3 separate regions of the Homo sapiens genome follow, and regions 1 and 3 are each linked to region 2. Evidence: fine-mapped expression QTL. A gene starts in region 2. Each other region holds a variant in brackets. All regions are shown on one strand. Distances are from middle to middle.

Region 1 (2,752 bases), 26 kb before region 2:
AGGCTCCATTGATGGCACTGGGGCAACAGGCATGAACAAGACAGGCAAAGCCTGCGCCTCTGAGGAACCGAGGTTCCCATGGAGGGGACAGATAATAAACAAGCCAAAGGGAGATGGGACTGTTCCAGAGGGTGGGAGGAGCTATGAAAGAGAACACGTGGGTCTGACAGAGCCGGACAGAGGGCACTGCAGGCTGGGTGAGGTCAGGGCAGAGACCCGAGGGAAGGGAGGGAGCCACTACGCCAAGTGCCTGGGAAGAGCATTCTGAGCAGAGGGAATGGCCAGTGCTTGGCCAAGACTCTGAGGTGGGTGTGTGGCTGGCCTGTGTCAGCAGCAGCGGTGGCCACTGCGGCTGGCACGCAGGGAGGGGCAGGTGGCATGGGACGAGGTCAGCGAGGCGGATGGAGGACACATCCCACAGGCCCTGCAGGCTGGGGCAGGACTCAGCTTGTTTTCGGCGGTGGATTTGAAGCAGAGCGCAGAGTGCCCAGGAGGGTGGATGAGTTTCACCCAGAGTGACCCCAGGCAGTCAGTGCCAGGGCCGGTCTCCAGCCGAGGCTGGCTCAGCCTACATCCGCTCTCGCCGGCCCTTCCTCCCCACACAGTCCCAGCCTAGGTTCTCAGGCAGAGCTCCAAACACTGTGGAACTCTGGCTATGGAATATGTTTTTGTGCTCACAAAGAAACACAGGCGTGGCTAACACCCTGGACTCCTTCCTCACACAAGATCATTCAGAAGCCCCACCATGGATCTGCAGCTCCAAAAGGACTCAAGCACCAGTCCCTCTCCTTGTCCTGACCCCAGGACCCATGCTTGGCCCCAGCCCAAGGGTGGCTTCCTCCCAGACACCTGCTGGCCCAGATTCTGCAGCAAAGCCTCAGAGAAGTCTGTTTCTTTCACGGTCACAGCTCTGAGGCTTGCACACACCGCTCCCATCCCTGCATCCAAAGAGCTCCCGTGCATGCAGTGAGGTGCAGTGGTGAGGGGGGCAGATGCAGGAGCCAGGAGGCCTGGGTTCAAACCCCAGCTCTGCCCTGGCTCAGGCAACGCTGGGCAGGTTAAATAACTTCTCTGTGCCTTGGCTTCCCAATGTGTAAGTTGTTCCTAATGACTGGTTGTGGGGATGAAGCATGTTAACAGATGTGAGGGGGCAGAATGGTGCAGGCATAAAGAGAACCCTATTCAGGGCTGGCTATGATCATCACCATCACCAAAGTCCTTCAAGGTTGCCATACCTCTCCACGCCCTCCTGCCCTCCTCTGCTAGTTCCCCGTCAGGGAACTGATGAGCCCACTTGAGCGCACTGCCTCACACACCTGAGCTACCTGAGGCTGGAGACATGT[CT/T]TGTTCACCTCTGTCCCTGCCCCTCCCTGGCACTGAATCAATGCTGTTCGGTGAAAGAATGAATAAGAAATGAACAAACATATAGGAGCATGGGATGGTTAAATATTTCTTCAAAGGTAAGATTAAAAGCTTGAAATTACTCAGGACAAGTACTTTCTACAGAAGCACCTCTGGCAGAGCTGAATAATTAAGAAAAGGCCTGTAGGCAAAGCACAGCTTAAAGGCAAGAAACAGTTGGAAAAATAGAACAGAGCTAACCCAGCCGACAAACAATCCAGAACCCCAAAGTACTGACTGTGGAGTTTGGAGTTAGAGAAACCGGGCTTCCAAATCCTGAAGCCACCACCTATGGGCCATGCTGTGGTCTTGCCAAGGCCACTGTGTACAGCTGGGCAGGCTGTCCCCTGTCCAAGGGCACCTGCGGAGGATAGCAGCAAGGGCTGCAATCCAGCCCAGGCCCAGCACATGAGGTGTGAGGGCTACGGAGGGCTCCAGGGGCCCCTTTAAGGTGATTCCCTCAGAGGTGGCAAAGAAGTGACCAGCAGCACCAGGCACCTGCGGCAGCTCTCTGAGCCCCAGTTTCATCCTGCTAAGTGGAGCCAATGAGAGCAGCCACACTTCAAAGGCTTGGGACGGCACTGTGACCTTCAGGACATTTTTTTTTCCCACCCTTCAGTCTGGAAGCAAACAGAAATGGGGGAAAGCTAATTCCAGGATGGAATATGGCCTTTTCCGTCAGCTGGGAAGGGTGATAAGGAGGCGGCCATGGGAGTTGGGGGTGGGTGGGACATGCCCCATTCACACGGAGCTCAAAGGTTCTGGCCCTAGTGGAATGTGGCTGGGTGTGGGGCTGGGCCTAGAAGCAAAGTTCCTGAATGACCAGCTGGCCAGGCCGGGGCCTGGTCCCCTCTTGGGAACCAGCACGGCCAAGAGCAGTGTCTCATCAAAACAGGAAAAATCATAGAGGAAAAATGTGCACGTAAGGGGACTGGCATGCACAGGGAACGACATGACCCAAGCACCAGGAGGAGGGAAGGGGCTGGGGCAGGTGCACAGGGGCATTTAGGGGAGCAGAGCCCTCCCCGGTAAGGGCGCCGATGACGACCCAGACCTGGGAGATCCCAGGAAGCTATGAAGGTAAGTCTGGGCTAAGAAAGCCTCAAAATCACGTCCTCAGCACAGCTCCCCCAGCCACAGGCCTTGTAGCTTTTGACCACACAGACCTTTTGACCTGGTGTGACTGTCCAAAGTACTTCAAACAGTAATCTCCCCCGTGTTACCCACAGGGCAGGGAAGCATGGACTTTGGCCCCAAACATCTGGCTGGCAGGGGCCTTGGAATCTTGGGCAGGGCCCTCACAAGCTCCCAGCCCTGTTTTCTTTCTGTGGACAACAGCGGACCCCCACCC
Region 2 (2,752 bases):
AGTCGTCACAAGCGGAGACCTTATTTTTAGCCCCAATTTGCAGGTGGTGAAACTGAGGGCGCTCGGAGACTTGCTGAGGTCAGCCAGCCGAGCGGCGACAGGGAGTTCTGAACCCAGAGCCTTTGCCCCTAACTTCTAGAATATACCGAGCTGTTCAGTAGAAAGGGCAGAGCCAGGATTCTAATCCAGCTCCTCCCTGCATTAAAGCCCTGCTCTTTTCCCAGCCAGACACCAAGTGTGGCTGCCTCAGGCCAGGACATCCCCTGGGGCTCCACACCTCAAGGGAACCTCTGGTGGAGATCTCTTCCCCCGCAGGCTTCCAGAATGCCCCATGCAACCTAGACCATGAGGCAGCTGGACCCCACAAAGGACCCATTGTGGTGACTGCAGAAAGCCAAGGCCAGACCCCGGTGGCCCTTCTGCAGAGTCCTGCCCAAGGCGCCTCCTCCCCTTCCCATGGTGCCCCCATACCCAGCGGACAGGGCTGGGGCTGAGGGAGGGAGGGGCGGGGGCAGGCCTCCCGATCTGCCCGGCCTGGGGGAGCCTCAGGCTATAGAAACTTAAAACCCTCCAGCTGCCGGCAGGCTGCATGGGGCCCCAGGCCCCTCCGGACTCATTCCAGGTGCCCTGCCCCACCTGTCAGCTGAGGTGGGGTCCACCAAGGAGGCTCAGTAGAGGGAGGAGAGGGATGCTGGGGTGTTATGGGCTGTTCCCATCTGGGAGGAGGGAGGAAATGTTTCCTAGTGTGGGGGAGGGGAATGCAAGGTATCCGGGCAGGCTGGGGAGGGGGCTCGGCGGAGGGAAGGTGGGTGGATTTGTCTCCCGCTGCACGAGGGGGCCTCCGCGGCTCTGGCTGGCTTCGTGTGCGGCAGGGGGGGGGCTCGCCTGGGGTCCCTAGGGGCCTGCGGAGGCATGCACAGGGCGGGGAGCCGCTTTTGCATGCAGGGCGGGAGGGGTCCGCGGCGTGCCGGGGCGCTCCCTCTGCCCGCTGAGGGAACTCCCGACTGGCCGGGGTCGCCACACTCACCTCCTGAAGTCAAAGGGCATCGTGCCGCCGCCGGGGGTGGGAGCGCTGCAGGCCAGGCGGGCCGCGGCGCCGCGTGGGTCCGAGCCCGCTGCCAACGCCTCCTCCGGCCGCCCCGCCCCCGCCGGCCGCCCCCCTGACACTCGCCACTCGCCACTCGCCACTCGCCTCCCGCTGCCGGGAAGTGACGCTCCGCGCAGCCCATTGGGCGCCGCCCGCCCGGCCGCCCCTTCCGCCACCCGGTTAAAGGGGCCCGCGGGCAGGCAGGGAAGGGGCGGAGAGTCGAGGCTGTCGGAAGGGAAGGGAGTCCCCCAAAGACTCCAGTACTCATTCCTTCAAGCCTCCCACTTAGATTTCCTTCTCCATCTCTTTGGATGCCCTCGGACAAATTCTCTGCTTCTCCGAGCCCAGTTTTTTGCATTTGTAAACAGTTTCACTGAACTGTGATTGAGTTGGGGGCGGGGGGCGGGGTGATACAGACTTTGGCCGTGCACAGCGTCTAGCTCTGAGTGAGGGCCTAATACTGTGGGGGAAGGGAAGAGGTCGGCCATCCTAGGCTGTTAAGGTGGACTCACCTCTGCCCCTGCCGTGTCTCTCTGGGAAAGCCACTGGGCTTCTCAGAGCGCCCCCCCCCCGCCCCGCCCCTTTTGCATATCTGCACAAAGAGGACGATGACACCTACTTGAGGGGGTTTTCCTGGGGATCAGCTGAGAAACAGGAGACTGGCTTAGCACAGTGCCAGGCACCTGAAACTATTGAGGCTGGCAGTGGCTGTCCCTGCTTCCATCTGCCCCTGTCGTTCACTCCAGTGGGCATTCACAGAGCATCTGCTCTGAACCAGGTCCATCGAGAACATGCAGGGTTGTGGCAGAGGCAGATGGGACCTGCACTGTGACTTGGCCAACGTGGACTGTGCCGATTGTCTCCTTCTTAGAGCCTCAGTTTCCTCCTCAGGAATACAGAGCAGCTGCCTCCGTGACTGCTGGATTAGAGGAGATGGTAGTTGAGGTCACACAAGACCTGAGTAGGGGAAACTCACTCTGAACTTCCCCGAGGTTCTGTCACTGGCCCTTTCTCCAAGGTTGTGGTGGGACAGGGCTTCAAAAAACCCAGGGGAGAATGGTGAGGGCTCGGGTTCCAAAAGCAGAGTCAATGGACAGTTTCCCCCTGTGTAAATAGAGGGGAACAGCAGTGCTGGTTCCTCCGGGAGGATTCAGAAGGGACAACACTAGCACGGGGTCTGGGGTAGGGTGACGTGGTGAACCAAAGCCTTCCCCTAGAGCATATGCCGGGACCTGACCTCTGCGTTCCCTTTTCATTCATTCACTCATTCATTCATTCATTCATTCAGTGTCAGTGGTCTGACACTGTTGGGGGAGAAAAGGAAATCTCAGCCTGAACTGGAAACCTAGGGACAGCAGGGAGAGTTAAGGGATCTTGAGCAGCCACTGCTTCCAAACAGCCATTCGTTGGCCCTGTGTGGGAGGAAACATGCAATGATGGATCTTTGACCTCGAATCCTCCCTCCTCAAACTGTGGTCCACAGACCAGCCACATGGCCATCACAGGACAGACTCTTGTCCCCAGGCCAGACCTACTGAATCAAGTGTGCATTTGGGATGATATCCAAGGTCAGCAAATGCCTGGCACAGAGTAAATGCAAGACAGGGTTGACTATCATTGCTCTTTTCGAGTGGGGATAGAGCTCCCAACTTTTGGCTGGGCATG
Region 3 (2,729 bases), 110 kb before region 2:
AGGGCAGGGGTGCCGCTGGCAGGAGGGAAGACGCTGATTGGCATTTCCCTGGGCTGTGGGGATGGGGCCTGGGAGGAACACTAATGAATGAAACTGAAAAGAAAGCAAATTGCAGTCGTGACACTTAGTTCCCACAGCCTGTTGCTGTTCACACAGAGGAGCGAGGAGAGCTGGGCCTCTCCAGGGGAGTCCAGGACAAAGCTGGGGCTGGGAGGTGTGCACCTCCCTGCTGGACATGGTGAGGGTGGCATGAGGTGAGGGCTGGGGAGTCCACCCGGCTTTCCTGCCATGGCAGCAGAGAGCACCCAGCCTTTGGAGGCTGCATCGTGGCATCACTTACTAATTCTAGCCGTGGGAGAGCCTTTCTGGGCCTCAGTTTCTTCATCTATAAAACAGGAAAGCCAGCCGGGTGCAGTGGCTCATGCCTGCAACCCCTGCACTTTGGGAGGCCAAGGTAGGAGGATCACGTGAACTCAGGAGATTGCGACCAACCTGGTCACTTGGTGAAACCCTGTTTTTACTGAAAATACGAAAATTAGCTGGGCATGGTGGCAGGTGCCTGTAATCCCAGCTACTCGGGAGGCTGATGCATGAGAATTGCTTGAACCTGGGAAGTGGAGGTTGCAGTGAGTCGAGATTCAGCCACTGCACTCCAGGCGAGGTCACAGAGCAAGACTCTGTTGCCAAAATAAATACATAAAAATAAAAATAAAACGACAAAACCCCTGCGGCTCTACTGAAAATACATCTGGAGCACCTAGCACCTAGTAGATGCTCAGTAAATGAAACCTGATCTTAATCTTTCAGTTCACTGGAAGGCTCTAACCTTATGGCCAAGAAATGGGATTGTCTCAACCTGAGACCCACTTTAACCAGAAAAATCAGTAAAATATTACTTATTCCCCAGAGCACGCCTTTGGGTCTCAACTTCCATTCTCTCTCTGGCACTTTTAGCAGAAGGCAAGACGAGTCATACAGGAACAGGACCGCAAGAGTGTCCCAGCACCGCAGGCAGATTCTTTGTGGCCGCTGGGGGCCCACGCACTCTAAGGGCCCTCTGAAGTTACACAGCAACCCATTCAACAGAACAGGTAGCTGAGGCCCAGACAGGGTGTCCTGTTCCCTCAGGCAGTTGCCAAGATGTGTTTGTGATGAAGAACATCCTTGTGGGGCAAAGCACCTTAGGCCAGAGGTGGGTTCCATCCTTTGGCCAGTGAGGGAGCTCCCTGAATCTCACCACCTCAAGCCTATTGGGAAAACTCTCATTTTCCTGAATGCCCAAGGGAGAGAAGATAGCAGACACAACTGACCACATGGGAGGTGCACAAGACGTGTTTGTTGAATAAATAAAGGAGTGAGAGAAAGAATGAGGAGCCAATGGGTGGGTTCCAGAGTGAGGGAATGAATGACTACTCAGGAAAGGCACAGGGTTCCACACCCAAGGCAGCGGCAAAGGTGACTCGCTCAGGGGTGTCAGCCGGGGGCGTGGGGAAGGCAGTGCTGATGAAAAGGTGGGCCTGGAGGGGGAGACCCTGGA[T/C]GGGGCAGGCAGCAGGTGCCCCTCTCCACTAAGTTGCTGTGCCTGGAGACCCTGCACCTGGAAAGCGATGCCATAGAGGGCCTGGGCTTTGGAGGCTGGCAGAATTGGCTTGGACTCCTCTCATCCATGTGCTCTTGTGCCACCCTAGCTCCCAGTGCCTCAGTTTTCTGGCTTTTAAAAATGGGAAGACTGGCCGGGTGCGGCGGCTCACGCCTGTAATCCCAGCACTTTGGGAGGCCGAGGTGGGTGGATCACCTGAGGTGGGGAGTTCGAGACCAGCCTGGCCAACAAGGCGAAACCCTGTCTCTACTAAAAATACAAAAATTAGCTGAGCGTGGTGGCAGGTGCCTGTAATCCTAGCTACTCAGGAGGCTGAGGCAGGAGAATTGCTTGAACTCAGAAGGTGGAGGTTGCAGTGAGCCAAGATCGTGCCACTGCACACCAGCCTGGGCAACAAGAGTGAAACTCCGTCTCAGAAAAAAAAAAAAAGGAAGACTAATCCTCACCCCCTAGGACTGTGGTGGCATTGACTGAGAGTGGCTTGGTCCCTTGCCACTGCCACGCTCTTGTATCTCCCAACCAGGCCTCAAGGCTCAGAGACAACCTAGGGTGGGATCTTCCCCGTCGGGGATGAGGGAGCAGGGTCACTGAGCCAGGGAGGGCCACCTCGGCCAGTGCATGCACCACTGCTCTGGGCAGCAGCCACAGCTCCAGAAACAAAAACAAGGACAATTCAATACCTGGGCCCCAGTGAGTCTGAGGGCAGTGCAGGAAGTGGCATTCATCAGACGTCATCCGATAATGCCCCTCTGTTCCCACCAGCAACTTCCTCCCAGGGGTCCCGTCAGCTTCTTGGCCTTCCACTGTGACTAGAATGAAGTCAGCTTGTCTACCTTTAAAAGGGGTGCGTGTGTGTTTCCCTTACATTTTCATTATGGTTCTTAATTCCTTATAATATGAGAAGGATGTGTTCCAGCCGCACTGGAGCGGGAACTAAATGCCTGTTTTTCCACCAGCACGAACGCCTTCCCAGTGCATCATTACTCCCCTCCCCATTACTCTCCCATAGCGTGCAATGGAGAAGCACCATACACACCGCCGTGGGAGGCGAGATTGTGGGCTTTGGAGTAAACACTCCTGCGGTCCAATCCCAGCTCTGTGGCCCTGGCTGGGAAAGCCAGTTTACCTCTCT

Direction of the effects. Positions count from the first base shown, and alleles are read on the strand shown. Sizes are in standard deviations (SD) of each study's normalised expression. Not every link is listed here.
As copies of T replace C in region 3, the expression in naive CD4 T cells of the gene that starts at base 1,210 in region 2 goes down (large effect, 0.82 SD a copy in Schmiedel 2018).

What was found. PIP is the estimated chance that this variant, and not a neighbour inherited with it, causes the effect. A credible set is the group of variants that fine-mapping cannot tell apart.
Region 1: its variant is the best candidate, but not a certain one, in a credible set for the expression of ERGIC1 in esophagus mucosa (GTEx, PIP 0.55).
Region 3: its variant is the best candidate, but not a certain one, in a credible set for the expression of ERGIC1 in naive CD4 T cells (Schmiedel 2018, PIP 0.52).

The regions. Positions count from the first base shown.
Region 1 is chr5:172,858,746-172,861,497 of GRCh38, reverse strand. All of the region lies in intron 1 of ERGIC1 (endoplasmic reticulum-golgi intermediate compartment 1), which reads right to left. Among named protein-coding and RNA genes, the nearest start is that of ERGIC1, 26 kb to the right of the region's middle. RefSeq lists an enhancer at 1,330-2,330. The variant CT/T (reference allele first, on the strand shown) is at 1,344.
Region 2 is chr5:172,832,709-172,835,460 of GRCh38, reverse strand. ERGIC1 (endoplasmic reticulum-golgi intermediate compartment 1) reads right to left here and starts at 1,210. Exons shown (of 10, transcript NM_001031711.3): 1 at 1,028-1,210. The coding sequence starts at 1,047. RefSeq lists an enhancer at 1-464 and silencers at 448-527, 538-587, 958-1,357.
Region 3 is chr5:172,943,658-172,946,386 of GRCh38, reverse strand. The region is part of intron 9 of ERGIC1 (endoplasmic reticulum-golgi intermediate compartment 1); the gene reads right to left. Among named protein-coding and RNA genes, the nearest start is that of RPL26L1-AS1, 14 kb to the left of the region's middle. The variant T/C (reference allele first, on the strand shown) is at 1,538.